Regions from separate parts of the Homo sapiens genome. Here region 1 is linked to region 2. Evidence: fine-mapped expression QTL. A gene starts in region 2. The other region holds a variant in brackets. All regions are shown on one strand. Distances are between the middles of the regions.

Region 1 (8,000 bases), 63 kb after region 2:
CAAATGTAAGGAGGCAATCATTCTAAGGCCGGGGTCCCCAATCCTGGGGCCTTGGACTGGTACTGGTTCGTGGCCTGTTAGGCACTGGGCTGCACAGTAGGAGGTGGGTGGCAGACAGGCGGGCAGCTGGGCGAGTATTACTGCCTGAGCCCCACCTCCTGTCAGATCAGCCACAGCATTAGATTCTCATAGGAGCGCAAACTCTATTGTGAACTGCCCGTGTAAGGGATCTAGGTTGTGCATTCCTTATGAGACTCTGACTAATGCCTGATGATCTGAGGTGGAACAGTTTCATCCTGAAATCATCTTCCGCTCCCCTGTGGAAAAATTGTCTTCCATGAGACCGGTCCCTGGTGCCAAAAAGGTTGGGGACTGCTCCTCTAAGGAACACTTTGAGCAGAAATTCCAGAACTGCAGGAATATGGTAAGAAAACAGGAAGTGATAAGATGTGAGGTGTCAGAATTCAGGAAAGAAGTAGAAGGGAAGAATAAAACCGTGACATGGGAAAGAGCACAAAGGGCGAATAAACACTAAAGAACACACAGGAACACAGAGTAGAAATGAGGAAATTAAAATGAAACCAAAGTCAAGAAAGAATTAGAGAGAAAATGGGCACAGAAGATCTAATATAGGCAAAACTGAATTTCTCTCAGAAGAAAAACCAGATAGAACAGTTATTTAACGTTCTGTAAACAGAACACTTATTTAATGATACTCAAGAACATTTTCTTAAGTGAAGATTGTTGAAAGAGGATATCATATGGTAGGGGAAAATGACAAGAACTGTCAGCATCAAGGCATATAAATTATTGGCCTTAAAAGATAATGGCAGAATCCTTTAGGCAGTCAGGCAAAACAGTCAAGCCAGTTTATAAAAAGGTGAAAAAAATTAGGCTGGCAGCTCTGTATGCCAGAAGAGAGTGGAGTGATTGCTGTAATCTCAAGGATAGTAAATATGAGCTAAAGATTTTATATCATATAGTAAATACATGCTAAAGATTTTATATCCAGACTGTCTTTTGGGTACATAAAAAGCCATATATTCATTAGTAATAAATATAAAGAGCTGAAAGAGTCTTATACCGATGACCCTTTCAGCCAACTAGATCTTTATTCATCTCTCTGTTCATATTCATGAACAGAGAATGAACATGTTCATGTTCATTCACCTCTCTGCTCATGTTCATGAGAGAAGTTATTTTCTTCTACCTCTAACAAAGAGCAGGTTAGTTGTTTTTAGAATATTTCTACTAAACCTATAAAAAGCAAATAATTAGAATGTTTTAAAAATGGTTCTAAATGTTTAAAAAAAGGTGATTTTTTTTTAGATGGAGTTTTGCTCTGTCGCCCAGGCTGGAGTGCAGTGGTGCAGTCTTGGCTCACTGCAACCTCTGCCTCCCGGGTTCAAGCAGTTCTTCTGCCTCAGCTTCTTAAGTAGCTGGCATTACAGGTGTGCACCACCACGCCTGGCTAATTTTTGTATTTTTAGTAGAGACAGGGTTTCACCATGTTGGCCAGGCTGGTCTCGAACTCCTGACCTCAGGTAATTGGAATTATAGGGGTGAGCCACCCCCCCAGCCTAAAAAAAGATGAGTATTCTCCATATTAGTCTTAATGATAAAAAAACCTAACAAAGATTAATACAAAACAGTCTACAGACCAGTTTCAGTTATGAATATGGATGCAGAAGTCCTAAATAAAGTATTTGCCAGTAATAGTCACCAGGACGTTAAAAAATAATTATTGACCAAGGGGAGGGGGGCATTTATTCCAGTTTCAGTATTCAGTATTTTCACATCAAAGGAAAGATCACAGGTTTGTCTTAATAGATGAGGCAGAAGCATTTGAGAAAATGAGTGTTCTGATACTCAGTAAAATAAGAATAGATAGAAGATAGATGCTTCCGTAACATGAAAATATATATATGTATGTGTGTGTATATATTTCTGCCCAAAACTCAGTATAGTGATTAATGGAGAAGCACTATAAACAGTTCCCTCTGAAGTCAAGAACAGACAACAAATGTCACTGTCAGCACTATTTTTAAATACTATACTGCAGTACCAGCCAAGACAATCACATGAGAGAGAAATTAAAAAATTGGAAAGGAAGAAGTAAAACTAGCACTATTTACAGACATTATGATTGTACAACTACTTGAAAACCCAAGAGAACCCCAAAACTCTGCAAATAATAAAATTATTATTACTGAAGTTGTTGATCATAAAAATAATTTGTAGAAATCAGTGGCTTTCATGTAAATAAACCTATAGAGGATAAGATGAAGAGACCCACTTACAGTAGCAACAAAAAGGATAAAATATAAAATATAAGTTTGTCATATATGAGACCTATGTGAAGAAAACAGTATTTCAAAAAGAAGGCTTGAGCAAGTTAAAAAACATGTTCTTGGACAGGATGACTCAACTTCATAAAGATGTCAATTCTAAGTTAACTTATGCATCAACTGGGCGTGATGGCATGCACTTCTAGTCCCAGCTACTTGGGAGATTGAAGTGGGAGGATGGTTTGAGCCCTAGAGTTCTAGGTTGTAGTGCGCTATGATTGTACCGTAAATAGCCACTGTACTCCAGTCTGGGCAACAGTGAGACCCTATCTCTAATAACAAACATAAATAAAGAAATAAACATATGCGGCCAGGCGCGGTGGCTCACGCCTGAAATCCCAGCACTTTGGGAGGCTGAGGCGGGCGGATCACGAGGTCAGGAGATCGAGACCATCCTGGCTAACACGGTGAAACCCCGTCTCTACTAAAAATACAAAAAACTAGCTGGGCGTGGTGGCGGGCGCCTGTAATCCCAGCTACTCGAGAGGCTGAGACAGGAGAATGGCGTGAACCCGGGAGGCGGAGCTTGCAGTGAGCTGAGATTGCACCACTGTACTCCAGCCTGGGCAACAGAGTGAGACTCTGTCTCAAAAACAAAAACAAAACAAAACAAAAGAAATAAACATGCATTCATATGCTTTTGATATGCAAACATGCTTTTGATATGCAAACATGCTTTTGATTAAAAAAAATCAGCAGCTTTTCATTTGGAATTAGACAAGTTGATCCTAAAGTTCAAGTAGAAAAAGAAACAAGGTCAGCCAGGAAAACAATAAAAAGAGTAGTGAAGGAATACTAGTTCTACCAGATATTAAGGTATATAATACCATATTTAATTAAAACACAGTGGTACTGGTACATGATTAGACAAAGACAGAATAGAAAATAGAAATAGATTCAAATACATACGTGAATTTAGTGTAAAAGATCTTCAGCCAACCAGAAGAGGTGGACAACTGCCCAGCCATTTAGAAAATAAAAGTTATCTTTATACCAGAGTAAGTTCTGAGTGGACCAAACTTGAAATTTGTAAATGAAATATAAGGTGTAAAATAGAATGGAGGAGAATTCCGTAATAAAGCTGGGATGAGCAGGATCTAATAACTCCTACTTAAAATCCAGAAGCCATTAAAAAAAAAGAAAAGAATAAGTTTCTCATAGAAATATGATAAACAGAGTCAGGATATGACAAATTGGGAATCCAATATTTGAAACTTATTCACAGGCAAAAGGCTAATTTACTTTATTTAGAAAAGAACTCCTAGAAGTGAACGAGAAGAAAACCCAATAGAAAACTGAGGAGAAGACGCAAACAGAATTTTGCAGACAAGGAAATACAAATGGCTCTTAAATAAATGAAAAAAAATGAATACCCTCATTCATTATAAAATACAAATTAAAATTAGTCTGAAGTAATATTTTTCAGATTGGCAAGAATCTGAAAGTTTGATAATATGCTTTGTTGTCACATGTTGGAGAAATAGATTTCATACATTGCCGTGAGAATACCCAATGGTGCAATCCTTGTGTTGGGCATTTTAGCTGTAAAGAATAATAAGACTGCAAATTCAAACATCCTTTAATCCAGCCATTCTGTTTTTGGGAGTCTATTCTGAGGATATATTAGAATATGCTAGAAATGACATATTTATGAGCTTATTCATTTCTACATTGCAAATAGCAGTAAAAAAGTAGAAACAAAGTGACCAGGGCTGGTGAAATAAAGCTATACTTGTATAGTGAAATGCTGTGCAGCTATTTTAAAAATCAGGGTGTTTTCAATTTACTGATATGGAAAGATCTCCAAGATAGTTATGGTAAAAAGACACAGAACAGTGTGTAGAGTATGTTTTGTGTAAAAAGGAAGAAAATAACAAATATAGAAATTGGCTTGTTTACGCACAAGGAAGCTCTGGATATTCTAAGGAAGAAAGATTGGAATATCGTCATTTAAAATATTTTATATTTC[A/G]TATATCTAATTTAAAAATCAGGTTTGTTGTAAACAAGTATATATTTTATTTACACTTGTCAAGTATTTTCAGCTCAGTGATTGAAAGGTGAATGAAAGATGGAAAAGTAGGCCATATAATAATATTAGCTTTTGAATATCTGAGAGTTTATTTTGTTAAAGTCGTTGTTAATACTGAAGGCCAAAATCCTTTGAAATCTTACTGGATATAATGTATACCGGAAAAGTATACATAAGTGTGTATCTTGTTGAATGTTCACAAACTGCGTACACCCAGGCAACCAGCACTTAAATCAATACACAGAAAATTCTCAGCACCCTAAAAGCATTGTTAATGCATCCACCCAGTCAGTCAGTCTTTATCTTTCTTTTCCAGGGCAACCGCTATCCTAACTTGTAAGAACATAGATTACTTTCTCCTGTTTTTGCATTGTATATAAATAGAATCACATATTATGTACTCTTCCATGACTGGCTTTTATTCTACATTATATTTGTGAGATTCATCAGTATAGTTGTGTGTATTTGTAGATCTTTTATTCTCATTTCTGCATATATTTTATTATGTGAATGTACAAGTTATTTATTCTACTGTTGAATATTTTGAGTAGTTGCCAGTTTTGAGCTTTTATAAATAGTGCTGGCATGAATGTTGTAAATCACTGCTGTCCAGTATTGCTGGTAGCAGTAAAAATATGGAAACAAGTCAAATGTCTGGTTCTGGTTAATTAAATAAAACTACATCTATATGGTGAAGTACTATGCAGTGACATATGCAATTGAAAATGTAAAATTTGTAGTAGCCGTAGTTAAAAAAAAAAAAACAGGTGAAATTAATTTCAATATTTCATTTAACCCAGTATGTCCAAAGTATTATTTTAACATATAATCAATGTAAAATTACAAATGAGAGATATTTTACTTTTTTTCACACTAAGTCTTAGAAATCTAATCTGTATTTTTTTTTTTTTGTGAGATGGAGTCTTGCTCTGTCGCTCAGGCTGGAGTGCAGTGGCACGATCTCGGCTCACTGCAACCTCCGCCTCCTGGGTTCAAGCAATTCTCTGCCTCAGCCTCCCGAGTAGCTGGGATTACAAGCGCCCACCACCAAGCCCAGCTAATTTTTGTATTTTTAGTAGAGACGGGTTTCACCATCTTGGCCAGACTGGTCTTGAACTCCTGACCTCCTGATCCACCCGCCTCGGCCTCCCAAAGTGCTGGGATTACAGGCGTGAGCCACCGAGCCCGGCTTAATATGTATTTTATACTTACAACACATCTCAATTCAGAGTAGCCACATTTCAGATGTTTGATAGTCATGTGTGGCTAATGGTTACTGTATTAGACAGTACATGCTTTTGGTGAGCATGTTATATGCAGTGCTGTTGGGTATATATCGAGGTCAAAGGATATGTGTGTATGCTCAGTTGATATTGTCAAATAGTTTTCCAACGTGATTGTACTAATTTATATTCCTCCTAGCAATATATGAGAGTCCTGGTTGCTCCACATTTTTGCCCTTAGCTATTCTGCTGGGTTTGTAGTATTATCTCATTGTATGATTTTAATTTTTCATTTTCCTGATGACTAATATGTCCTTTTTATATACTTATTAGCTGGAGGCTTTGCTTTTTAATTTCTGTTTTCATTGAAATCTTTCATCAGAAGTTTAAAGCGTTTAAGAAGAATGAATATTTTACTCTGAGCTTTACTTTCTTTTGACTAATGGTTTGAATACTACTGTCAGGTTGTTGGGCATAGTACTAGTGGCATTTTATTTTATATCTTTTTGCTCTTTTACATTATTGATTTTATTTAATAGCATTGATTTATATCTTTTATAAGTGGCTAGGAAATTATCATTTGCTCTATAAATGTGTTATTTACTGCAACCATCCCTAGAGTTTATCAAAGGAAAAGAAAGGTATTGTGTTAAAGCTTTATAATATACGTATATATTTTAGATATTTCAAAATCTGGCCTTTTAGAATTTTGATATTGATTAAAAACTTATTTATTTTATAAGCAGTTATTTACTTAAGAAGTAGTTTTGTTTTTTTTTTTTGATGAATGTATACTAGTTTTCTTTATGTCTGGAGTGACTGGGGCCCTTCTTGAGAGGGAAGGTTGGATGCGGACAGTGTGGGGCTTTGCTGTTAATTGTTAAATCAGGGCAAAAGGTACTGTCTCAGATGTTTTGGGACATGTCATATTTACTTCTTTGTGTACGTTAATCAGTGCAGTGAAAAGATGATTGACATCATGTATTACATGGAGTGCATTTTACCTTAGGTATTGTTTAGTGTGATTTTGGGATAAATTTCAATTTACTGTTAGAGGAGACAGAATTTTCTAATATTTAATACTAAATTGTAATAGTATTTTCAGCAATATATCTTTCATGAGTTTATCTTAGTGACAGGTGATGTGTTATCTTTTAATATAAAATATTTCAACGCCACATTTCTTTGAATATCTTCAGGAAGTTTTTATCTAGAAATTTGCATAATGGTTTGCATAAAAGGTTAGCCTTTTCACCTGTTTTATTTTGTATAAACACTGATATAGTGATTAAAACATTAGCTACATAACTATGAGTCACTGTAGTTTTCTGATAACTTTTAGATAGATGATGTTAGGAGTTTTTTAAATCCAGGGACTACCTTTTATTAGAGGGTGGGCAGTCTTTTAGGATTACTTGCCCAGTTTGACACGTTTCTTACTCTAGCTGTAACTGTGATCTCTGAAAATGTTTACTTTTTCCCCCAGTCTTCAGAAATATAAAAAAGATACAACTTCATTTTATTAAACAATAGGAAGAAAGAGGATTTAGATTCTAGTCAAGAATAAAAATGTAGTATATTTTGTTTTTTTCAGTTTTTGTTATATTGATAAATAATTATACATATTATGGGGTACATGTGATACTTTGATCATGAATACAATGTGTAATAATCAAATCAGGGTAATTAGGATATTCATCACATATTTGTGGGGCACATGTGATATTTTGATACATGAATACAATGCATAATAATCAAATCAAGGCAATTAGGATATTCATCTCAAACGTTTATCATTTCTTTGTGTTGGGAACATTCCAAATCTTCTAGCTATTTTGAAATATACAATAAATTATCATTAACTATCATCACCCTATGCTGCTATTAAACACTAGAACTTATTTATTCTCTCTGACTGTATTTTTGTACCTATTATCCACCCTCTCTTCATCCCCACCCCCTACTCTTTCTTGACTCTAGTAACCATCATTCTACTCTGTCTCCTTGTTTTTAGCTCACACATATGGAGGAGAACATGCAATATTTGTCTTTCTGTGCCTGGCTTATTTCACTTATCATGATGGCCTCCAGTTCCATCCATGTTGCTGCAAATGACAGAATTTCATTATATTTTTTATGGCTGAATAATATTCCATGGTGTATATATACTACACTATATCCATTTATCTGCTGATGGACACTTAGGTTGCATTCATATTTTGGCTGTTGGAAGTGCTGCAATAAACATGGGAATACAGATATCTCTTCAGTATATGGATATCCTTTCTTTAGGATATATACCCAGCAGTGGGATTGTTGGATCATATTGTAGATCTAGTTTTAGTTTTTTGAGGGACCTCCATACTGTTTTCCATAGTCACTGTACTAATTTGAAATGTA
Region 2 (10,626 bases):
CTTACGGTTATGGAGGATGTGAAGTCTAAGAGCAGGGTACCAGCATGATTGGGTTTTGGTGAGTGCCCTCTTACTGCTTTGCATATAGACACCTTTTTACTGTATCCTCACATAGCAGAGTGAGAGAGGAAGCAAGTGCTGTTGCGTCTCTTCTTAGAAGGGCACTAATCCTATTCATGAGGGCTCTGTGCTCACAATCTAATTACCTTCCAAAGGTCCCACCTCCAAATACCATCGCATTTGGAACTGAATTTCAAGAAGTGACTGTTGGGGGTACACATTCAGTCCACAGCACCTAGTATGTCTGTCTATTCCTTTCTATTTAGCCTTTCTGAATCATTTTGTTTTAGGTATGTTGCTTGCATGTACCATAATGATAGTGTATCAGTTAGCTTCTGTTGCATAACAAACCATGCCAAAACTTAAAAACCAGCCATTTATTTAGCTCATAATTCTGTAGGTTGGCTTAACAGTTCTGGTCTAGATTGGCTCAGTTGATCTCTCAGGTGCTTGCTTCTGTGTCTGAGGTCATCTAGGGTGTTGCCTGGTTGTTGGATGATCTAAGATAGCCTTGTTCATATGTCTGACAATTAGCAGACTGTTGGTTAGGGCTAGGAGAGTGACTCAACCACGTCTCTCATAATCCAGCAGGCAAGACGGTACACATGGAGGTCACGGGGTTGCAAGTGCAGTAAGAGAGGACAAACCCTGATGACTGAAGTGTCTGCTTGCATCACAACTGCTAATGCCCCATTGGCCAAAGCAGCTCACATCAACGACCTAGACTTAAAGGGTGCAGAAAAAGACTCCACTTCCTGGTGGGAAGATCTGCAATGTCACACTGCAAAATCATGATAAAGGGAGAGGAAGAGTTTGTGGCCAATTTTATAATCTATCACATTGGGTTTTCTTTTGTGAGTCATTTTAAAAGTCTTTTTCTTTACTTCCTTTTTTCTTTACCTCCTTCTGCTATTCGATTTTTTAACTTTAAGTGACATTCATTGATATCATTTAAATATCTTTTGACTCCCATCAATTGCCTATTTACCAATAAATTTACTTATTTTACTTTTCCTTTCTGATGACTGCAACTTACTATGAAATGGATCCAAAAAGCAAGGTAGATTTATGGGTGGATAGAGGGAAGATTAGATGGACAAATGTGAGATAAAGCATGCATAGTAAAATGTTAATGTTAGAATCTAGGTGGTGGGTAGGTGAGTGTTTATTGCAAAACTCTATGCTGTGGCTGAAATTTTAAAAATGAATTGTGAAGTTGAGGCAGGAGAATCCCTGGAGTCCAGGAGTTTGAGACCAGCCTCGGCAACATAGGGATATTCCGTCTTTACAAAAAATAAACAAATAAATTAGCCGGGCATGGTAGTGTGCACCTGTAGTCCTAGCTACTTGGGAGGCTGAGGTAGGATAATTGCTTGAGCCTGGGCCTGGAAGGTTGAGGGTGTAGTGAGCCATGACTGCACCACTGCACTCCAGCCTGGGCAAAAGAGCCAGACCCTGTCTCAAAAAAACAAAACAAAAAAACAAAGAAAAGAAGAGAAAAGAAAAGAAAAGAAAATATTGGAAGAAAAAGAACACAGGAGCCAGCTTGAGGGTGTTCATATCAGTCAAATCTTGGACAATCTGAGCGTCAAAATAAATAATAATAACAGATTATAATCTACCAAATTAAATAAAAATCTATGGGTCCATGCTGGTATAAACATATAAATGAATAAATAAGGGAGAAAAGAAAATTCTTCTTTCTAGAATAATGTCAGCTAATAGATATAGGCAGAATAATGGATAAGAAAATTACCATTTTGCAATCATCACAGAAATATTAGATTCATGGAAGAATCATCGAAGTATGCTAAAACTAGTGGAAGAAAGTTTAATGTGGAACAGTATGTTTAATAGCCTCGAATTATATTCCCACAAATTAGTTGTTAATTACAAAGGGAAAAGAATAATTTTTCCAACGAGAACCCTGGTGGTTTTTATTCTATCTAATCCCTTCAACCTTTTTTTTCCCTCTATTGGATCTTCCTCCTGCGCCCCTCCACCCTCTCCTTATTCTGGGCTAGTTGTACTTTCTGCTTGCTGCAGAGCTGCCATTTTAGGACTTTCCTTAACTGCTTTCCTAGACCTCCTCCTATGAACTGTTTGCTGAACTACCTTATATAAGGGTGGATTAAAGACCTCTGTAAATATATACAATAGATTAATAGATTGGTCATAGAATTCTCTTGAACTACATTTTGTTTGGCACACAGTATAAGCTCAAAAAATATCTGCTGAATAACTTAGTCTGGTCATCCAAGTATTACCAAAACTTTGTACCATGAAGCTTGTAGGATTTGGTTTTCATTTAATGTATGGTTATAAATATTAAATAAGTGAAGACAAATGAAATTACATACATTTTGTATATATGCTTACTTTTTCTTTTTAAAAATTTATTTATCTTATTACAGTGTTCCACACGTTCAGAGAAACTTCTCTATTAACGAACTACAGACATGATATCTGAAAGTAATCTTTATGCATAGTTTTCTTCTAAGAAACTCAAATGTGTTTTATATGAAGAACCACTAATAACCATTTACTTACTACTCTCTGCTACTAAGTCTTGAACAGAGAGCTAATGTATGCCTAAGGGAAAACCGATTAAAGAAACGTTCTTATATAGCTTCAAAAACGAATTAACAACGATAGTCAGGGTGAAAGGGGAAGGTGCTCCTCTTTAACTTGAAGTGCTTAAACAAATATTGGATTTTAGTGAAAACAGGAGTCTTGAAATGTATCCTTAATGTCCAGATACTCACAAGATAACTTTCAATTATCCAGAATTATTTTTTACTCTATAGAGCAATTCTTCCAAAATAGTGCATAGATTTATTCTCAGAAGTTATCTTATTCAAGTAAAGTGACTCTCATCCAAGAGAGACACTGGTAGCAAAGGGCAGTAGTTAGTTAAATAGCAGTGAAACTGATATTAGAGAACTGCCAACTGATGGAAATTTAATCAGCAGTATATGGAATTGGAATGGGCTTATACAGGGAGTAATTCTGAATATAAGGTGTTCAGCAGTTTTCGTTTCTTTAAAATTTTTTGTACAAAGTGGAAAAAACTTACACACCCATATTTGAAAAATGGGTAATTTTTCTTTCATTCATTATTATTTTTTAAAGTTAAATAAATTAAGGAGACAAATAGTTCTCTATCGCATGTTGTAAAAAATCCAGGGCCCCTGTCCCTTACCATTGCCTTTTTTCCATTCCTTACATGAAGTGTGTCTTCCCAGGTGACACGGGAGCCATCCTTGATGTTTTTTGTTTCATCAAGTCTATTTGGGTGTTCCTATTCTATGCTTCCTCCCCTCTAGATTCCCGCCTCTACCTCATACTCTAGGTTTATCCTGAGTGTGGAGTAGGGAAGTGTGAATACCACATTTACATTTTCCTTTTGTTCTTCACCTTTTCTCTCTTAGACTGTTCCGCTCAGCACCAAAAGGACTTTCTTTCTTGCACTGCAGGAACTTCCCTTACATCAAATCCTTATACTGTTTACTCTCATTTATTGTAAAAATACTACAGTCTTCTGAATCTGACTTCTGTAAGCCTCTTTTCTCCTTAATAACAAAGACTCCTCCAAAAATCATAAGTGCTTACTTTCAGGCTATCGTCTCCATGTGGACTTGAAACACACTATTTTGAAACTCAAAGCTGCCTTCAGCAGGGTTCTCTCCATTCGAAGAGGCAACTATTTCCACTGGTTCAATCAGTGGGGTTAATGATAGGCCCAGAACCAGGAATTTTCAAGAAGGAAAGTCCACTGACTTAATATTCTCCAAATGTACTCGTTATGCTGAGAATACACACTAAGAACATATGGCATTTCATTACATAAATGAAAAACATCATCATAAGCAAGTTTGGAAGCAGTGAAACACACCCTTGGAAGGCATTATAAATGCTCCCTAATATCTGATTCTCCCTTCCCAGTCCCATTGCAGTTTGGTGGAGCCATGTGAAAGGTTCTAGCTAGTGAAATGCAAGTGGAAGTAGGAGGGCTGAGGTAGTGACAAGCTGCTGCATGATGCTACAGATTTCCTCTTCTGCAGTGAAAGTGGAATCTCATGTTGGGATGGCAGAGTTACAAGATCAAAGTGGTCTGGATTGCTCAGACACTGGTTGGAGGACAACTCTAAGCCTGTTCCATATTAGACTTTGTGTGAGCAAAGAACAAATGTTTATTAGTATCTTTGAGTTTAAAATTGAAACTGAGATTTTGAAATTGTTTATTGTCAGAACATAAGCTAGCCAATCTTGACTAATATACCATAATTCTTTGCTTATTGGCCTATTGCCTAATTAGCTGGAGTGCTTGTTGTTGGTGAAAGTGTGTTATTTTGGAAGTAGAGAATATATTTTATATATATATATTTTTTTTTTTTACAAGGGTGAAACTTATTTAATGATATTTATTGAATGCCTGCTATACCAAGTGCTAGAGATGCATCAGTATACAAAACACACAATTTTTGCCCTCATGGAGCTTACATTTTAGTGGGGAAGTCAGATAAAAATTATATCAACAAACAAAATACTTGCAAGTTAGGGTAAGTGTTATGAAGGAACTAATGGCTGCGCTAGAGGTTAACAAGGGAGGGAATCTACTTTAGATAGTATGATGATGAGGAGAGGAGACCTTTCAACTGAGATATGAAGAAAGGGAGAAAACATTCTAGGTCACATGAGGCAAGAAAGATCTTGGTGTGTTTGAGAAACTAAAAAGACCATTGTGACTCAGTGGTAACAAATGAGGAACAAGAGGCAAAATATGAAGTTGCAGAGAAAGATCATCATGTTGTGGCAGGGAGTTTGGTTTTCATTCCAAGCCATCAGATAGTATCACCTTAATCTTCCTTTGGTCAATGCCACAAAACTAACCACATCTATGTTAACTTTCTTTTCTCCGCCATCTGCCTCAACAAATGTCATGTCCCTCATCTTTCTGATGGCTAATCACTCCCTTTGTATCCTCCCTCCTCTGGTTACCCTTTCTCCTCTTTTCATATACTTTGCTTCTTCGTTATCTTCCCAATGGGTCAGTCCTGTCAACCAACCTACAAGACACCACCCATCCCCCACCCTCTTCCATGGGTTATCAACTGGTAATGATTCTACTAACCACTCAGATGTTCAGGCCCCAAAACCAGGACCTATCTTGACCACTCTCTTTTCTTTACTTTCCTATGCAGTTCATTGGTAAATTCTTCAGTTTTAAACTCAAAGATATTATCAGTTTGGTTCACTCTTGCTAATGTTAGCTTTCCTGATTTCGTCTTGATTTCTGAAATGGTCTCATGATTTGCCTCCTTGCCTCCATTCTTTCCTTCCTCTAATTTTTTCTTTATGCATCAGCCAAGGGTGGCTACTTATTTTAACATAGAATAGCTTAATTAAAATAAACAAAAATTTTTATAAATTGTGGTAAAATAGGCCGGGTGCAGTGGCTCACGCCTGTAATCCCAGCACTTTGGGAGGCTAAAGCGGGTGGATCACTTGAGGCCAGGAGTTCGAGACCAGCCGGGCCAACATCGCGAAATCCAGTCTCTATTAAAAATACAAAAATTAGCCAGGCATGTGGTGTGCACCTGTAGTCCCAGCTACTCAGAAGGCTGAGGCAGGAGAATAGCTTGAACCTGGGAGGTGGAGGTTGCAGTGGGCTGAGATTGTGCCACTGCACTCCAGCCTGGGTGACAGAGTGAGACTCTTTCTAAAAAAAAAAAAATTGTGGTAAAATAAACTTTTACTATAATGAAAGTAGTCTATGTGCTGCAAAAGTTACAATGAAAAAGATAGGCAAACACAAAGAAAAAAATACACATTTCCACTTCCAAAGATTACCAATACTAACACCTTAGGGTATAAGCCCACTATTTTTTTAGTTGTACATAAATACATATATGTGCATTTTTAAACCAAAATGAGATGCTGTAACATACTATTTCGTGACTTGCTCTTTTCAGTTAATGATCTTTTCCATGGCAATACAGTTCTATTTTATCCAATACTCAGTCCATCTACATTCATATTTCTTTAATGGTCCTGAAAATGCATTTTATAGACAGTCTGTTCAAACCAGGATCCAATTCAAACTGTTATGTCCCTTAAATTTCTTTTCATAAAGCAGTTGCTTTTATCATGACAAATTGTTGAAGAGATGGGCCAGTTATCCTGCAGAATGTTTCACCTTCTGGATCTGTCTAGTTACTTCCTCTGGCATCATTTAGTTTGTTCATCTATCTGTTGTATTTTTTATAAACTGTGTTAGATGCAAAGGCTTGACAGATTCAAGTTAAATATTTTTGCCTGGAATATACCATGATGATACTGTATACTACATCCCATCAAAAGACAAACTATCCGATTGAGCTACAACGTGGCCTTTAAAAAATGTAAATTATAAGTGTATATAGCTTCCTCTGCATTTATTATACAATACTAAACAAATTCTTCAACTTGGACAACAAGTTTCTGAATGATTTGATGCCTGCTTACTCATCCAACTTTATTCCATCCCATTCTATTTGTTTTTAAAGGTCTTGTCACATGTTTCGTTTCTAGTCCTGAAACATGGTTAAGTGCTTGCCTCCTAGGGCCTCTGCCGCAGGCTTTTGGTTTGGAGGCTCTCCTTTGCCACTCCACCCCTCTCCACTCTTCTCCTCTTCTGATATCAAGCATCTTCTCAAATTACAGGTGTCGTTTTTAATTTATTTAAAATTTTGTTCTTTCTACAAAACAGCAACCAGAGACACAGGTTCATTTTCAGTTAACCTACTCGGAGAAAACCTACTTTATCTTATTTAAATTAGGGTCCTCCAAGCGATCTTAACATCTCCTAAGTCCCAAGCACCCTGTTTTTTTCCTGATACTTTTTCCGTTTACCTTAAGGTCTGTGTCAACCTGACAGTAAGCTGCACGATGGCAGGGGTCTTGCCTACTAGGTTCCCTGTGCACAGCAGCCCGTCAACAGTAGTTGAATAAACATCATAGGTCACAATAACCCTGGGACTGCCTCTTGGGGAGGTAGCCGCAAACTCTCGCAGGTGGCAGTGACACCAGTACTTCTCCGGGGGGTTGTTCGAGTGGAGGAATACTCTTACGTGAAAGTGCTCAGTACACCACTGCGGCAGGAAGGAGGAAGGGAAGAATTCCAGATGGGGAGAAAGTAATATTTTGCAGCACAGTACAGGGTAAACTGGGTCCAGGTGGGCGTAGCCGCCGCGACACCTTCACGTGACCGCGGACAGCTTAAGGACCCCGCATCCAGTGCGCCTGCGCTGGAGCTCCCGGAAGTTGCCGGACCCGGAACGCAGGCGGAGCGCAAGTCTGTCAGCCAGTCAGTCCGCCAGTCCGCCAGCCCAGTACCTCTCTCTCCTCGGCCCTCGTAAGCTGTCCGCGGTCTGTTTGGCCCGAACGGCGGCGGAGGCGCTGATCATGGCGACATTCATCTCGGTGCAGCTGAAAAAGACCTCAGAGGTGGACCTGGCCAAGCCGCTGGTGAAGTTCATCCAGCAGACTTACCCAAGCGGCGGGGAAGAGCAGGCCCAGTACTGCCGCGCGGCGGAGGAGCTCAGCAAGCTGCGCCGCGCCGCAGTCGGTCGTCCGCTGGACAAGCACGAGGGCGCGCTCGAGACGCTCCTGAGGTGGGCGCGGGGCTGGGAGTGGGTAGGTTGTCTGCCAGCCGTCGCTCGCCGCTCCTCTTCCCGTCTCCCCCCTTCCTTCAATCCTGTAACCTGGGCGGAGCCGCCCCGTCCCGGCCTGACCAGGCGCGTAGGTGTGGTCTGCATTCTTTGCTGGTGAGCAGGACCCGCCCTGCAGGCCCGCTGTGACTGCCCGCTTGTCCTGCCTGCACGTCTGCTCTAGCCCTTGGTCGGCGAGGGCTCCGTGGATCAGATACCTGGGAGCAGCAGTCTGCCCTGTACTGATCTCTTTTGCCACATTTACTTAGAACTAGTCTTCACTTTTTTGGGTCTCTAACTGAAGCTTCCCCTTTCGCCCCATTTTTCCATCACTGTCTTTCTTGGGCCACATTTTGATTTCATAATAGTAGTTGCTTGAAGGCAGTGGGGGAAGTGGGGGAATTGGGACACTGGACCAAATGTCTGATCAGCTCATCACATTGTCCACATGAAATGGACCGTCTTCCTCAGTTCAAAATAATCAAATGATAGATGGAGAATTCTGAAAGTTAGGAGCTACAACTATTTGAAATAAAACTCTAGTTACATAGTTGAACCGTTCAAGGTAGGTTGTTTAAAAGCAGTTTGTTCACAAACAGATATATACACAGTAGAGTAAATTTGTTATTTTAGCAAACGCTTATTTAGCTCATGCTGATTTAATGAGGGTTCCTTTCATGATACTTAATAGTTATAAGAACATTTTTTACGATTTTATAGTTAAACATTTCTTTTGCATACCTTGTTAATCTCGTTTTCTCCGTATAGTATATTCTACTTGTTTCACAGGAGAATCACAATTGTATTCCAATCCAAGTAGCAGAAACCCAGGCTAAACTAGCTTGAGCTAAGAAAAGACTTATTCTGCCGGGCGCGGTGGCTCACGCCTGTAATCCCAGCACTTTGGGAGGCCGAGGCGGGCGGATCACGAGGTCAGGAGATCGACACCATCCTGGCTAGCACGGTGAAACCCCATCTCTACTAAAAATACAACAAATTAGCCGGGCGTGGTGGCGGGTGCCTGTAGTCCCAGCTACTCGGGAGGCTGAGGCAGGAGAATGGTGTGAACCTGGGAGACGGAGCTTGCAGTGAGCCGAGATCGCGCCACTGCACTCCAGCCTGGGCGACAGAGTGAGACTCCATCTCAAAAAAAAAAAAAAAAAAAAAAAAAAGTAAGACTTATTCTGCTAACTGAAAAGTCTAGGGATATTCCTTCCTTAGCTTTAGGTATCACTGGAGATCGTCTTGCCTCCGTGATGCTTCCCTCGAAAGCTTTGTTCATGTATTGAGAGGGATGGCTGTAGTGTAATAACAATCGTCCGCAACACTCAGTATCTTACAGAAGGGAGTGCTTTTCTCCTTAGCTCTGGTGGAAGTCCATGGGAGGCTCCTGGGTTTGTTTGCACCCATTTATGATGGTGGGAAATGGGCTAAGTTAATTGCCCTTATCTGAGTCATCCAGCCGGTTTAATTTCTCCTTACCCCATGGATCAAAGCAAGATGAGTCCGGACTGGGGAAGGGTTGGTTCTCCGAAGGAAGGGGTACTGAATAGATTGCTCAGAGGAATTAAGACCCCTTGGTGTCAAATTTTAGAGCTACAACTGTTGGGCTGCAAGGATCATTAGTCTAATAGCATAAGCATTTTTTTTAAAGTTAACCTAGAAATACTTAGCCATTCTTTAGAATTAACATAATTAAACAATTTCAAGGTAATTTTTATGTAGGCATGAATAGCATTCAGTGAGGATTTTCCATTAGTAATATTAAGAAAACATAGTTGTGGTATAATGAGCCCTGTGATAAAAATCTTGTTGAATATATCAAATTTGGTTCCAGCCCTCAGATTTGGGGTCTTCAGAAGCACTTGGTGCATGGGTTTTAAGCTAACAGACATGGGAGGTTGGTGGATAATGGTTTGGATACGGTTCTCCTGTCAACTTTAAAACTTAATTCATTTGTTCCTTCCTTTATTCTTTTTACCAGACTTAAATGTGTGAACTGTTCCTAGGTAGTGGACCTGTTGTAGATATAGTCTCTTTGAAACTAACCATGTTTCTTTAGTCACCTCTGTATAATCCCCTCCTGCCACATTAATTCAACAAATATTAAGTATTTTCACTTTTTGGGCTTCTAGAGGGGTTAGGGTAAGCTTGGAGATATTACTAAAGTTTATAATGGAGGTAGGTACAAAAGTTTTGTAGGTATATACGCTGTAAAATTAGATGTGAATCAGTTGTGTGATGTTCATTCAAATCCGGCAGAATATCTTATTTTTAATAATTATGTTTGGATAATTGTGTAAACTTAACATTAATTTTTTAACTTAATGAACTTTTTAAACTAATGAACTTTGAAAAACAGAGTTTAAACTAATTCCTAAATAATTGAAGCCAGCTTGATAAGTCCTGATATGCAGCTCCATATATTGCTCCAGTGATAGACTTGTTTTCTTATTACTAACTTGTAGGTGTTCTATTAAAATTTCCTAAAATATACATTTATGCATATTATAATAATGAGAATGAGTACTTAAAAACTCATTTGTTCTGGGTGTGGTAGCATGCACTCATAATTCCAGCTGAGGCAGAAGGATCACTAGAGCCCACGAGTTGGAGACCAGCCTGAACTACATACTGAGACGCTGTCTCAAAACAAAACAAAACAACAACAACAAAAAACCCTTTTATATGATACTTCTTCCTTTATAAAGTGGCTTTTACTAAAAATTGATTAGACCTTGGTAAATGGTGACCTAGGGTGATCAAATGGGAACCCTGCTGGTTTTTTATTTTTATTTTGTATTTTATTTGAAGCTCCAGATATACCATTTACCAGCATTGTGTAATTTCTTTTGTGGTGATCAGTTTCTTTAGA

Evidence for each region. PIP is the estimated chance that this variant, and not a neighbour inherited with it, causes the effect. A credible set is the group of variants that fine-mapping cannot tell apart.
Region 1: its variant is the best candidate, but not a certain one, in a credible set for the expression of PDCD6IP in whole blood (INTERVAL, PIP 0.57).

What each region holds. Positions count from the first base shown.
Region 1 is chr3:33,855,873-33,863,872 of GRCh38, forward strand. All of the region lies in intron 15 of PDCD6IP (programmed cell death 6 interacting protein), which reads left to right. Among named protein-coding and RNA genes, the nearest start is that of PDCD6IP, 61 kb to the left of the region's middle. The variant A/G (reference allele first, on the strand shown) is at 4,318.
Region 2 is chr3:33,791,223-33,801,848 of GRCh38, forward strand. It overlaps PDCD6IP (programmed cell death 6 interacting protein), which reads left to right and starts at 7,408. Exons shown (of 18, transcript NM_013374.6): 1 at 7,408-7,715. The coding sequence starts at 7,507. PDCD6IP-DT (PDCD6IP divergent transcript) reads right to left here and starts at 7,297. Exons shown (of 2, transcript NR_183731.1): 1 at 7,173-7,297; 2 at 2,422-6,800. RefSeq lists enhancers at 7,275-7,624, 7,571-8,104.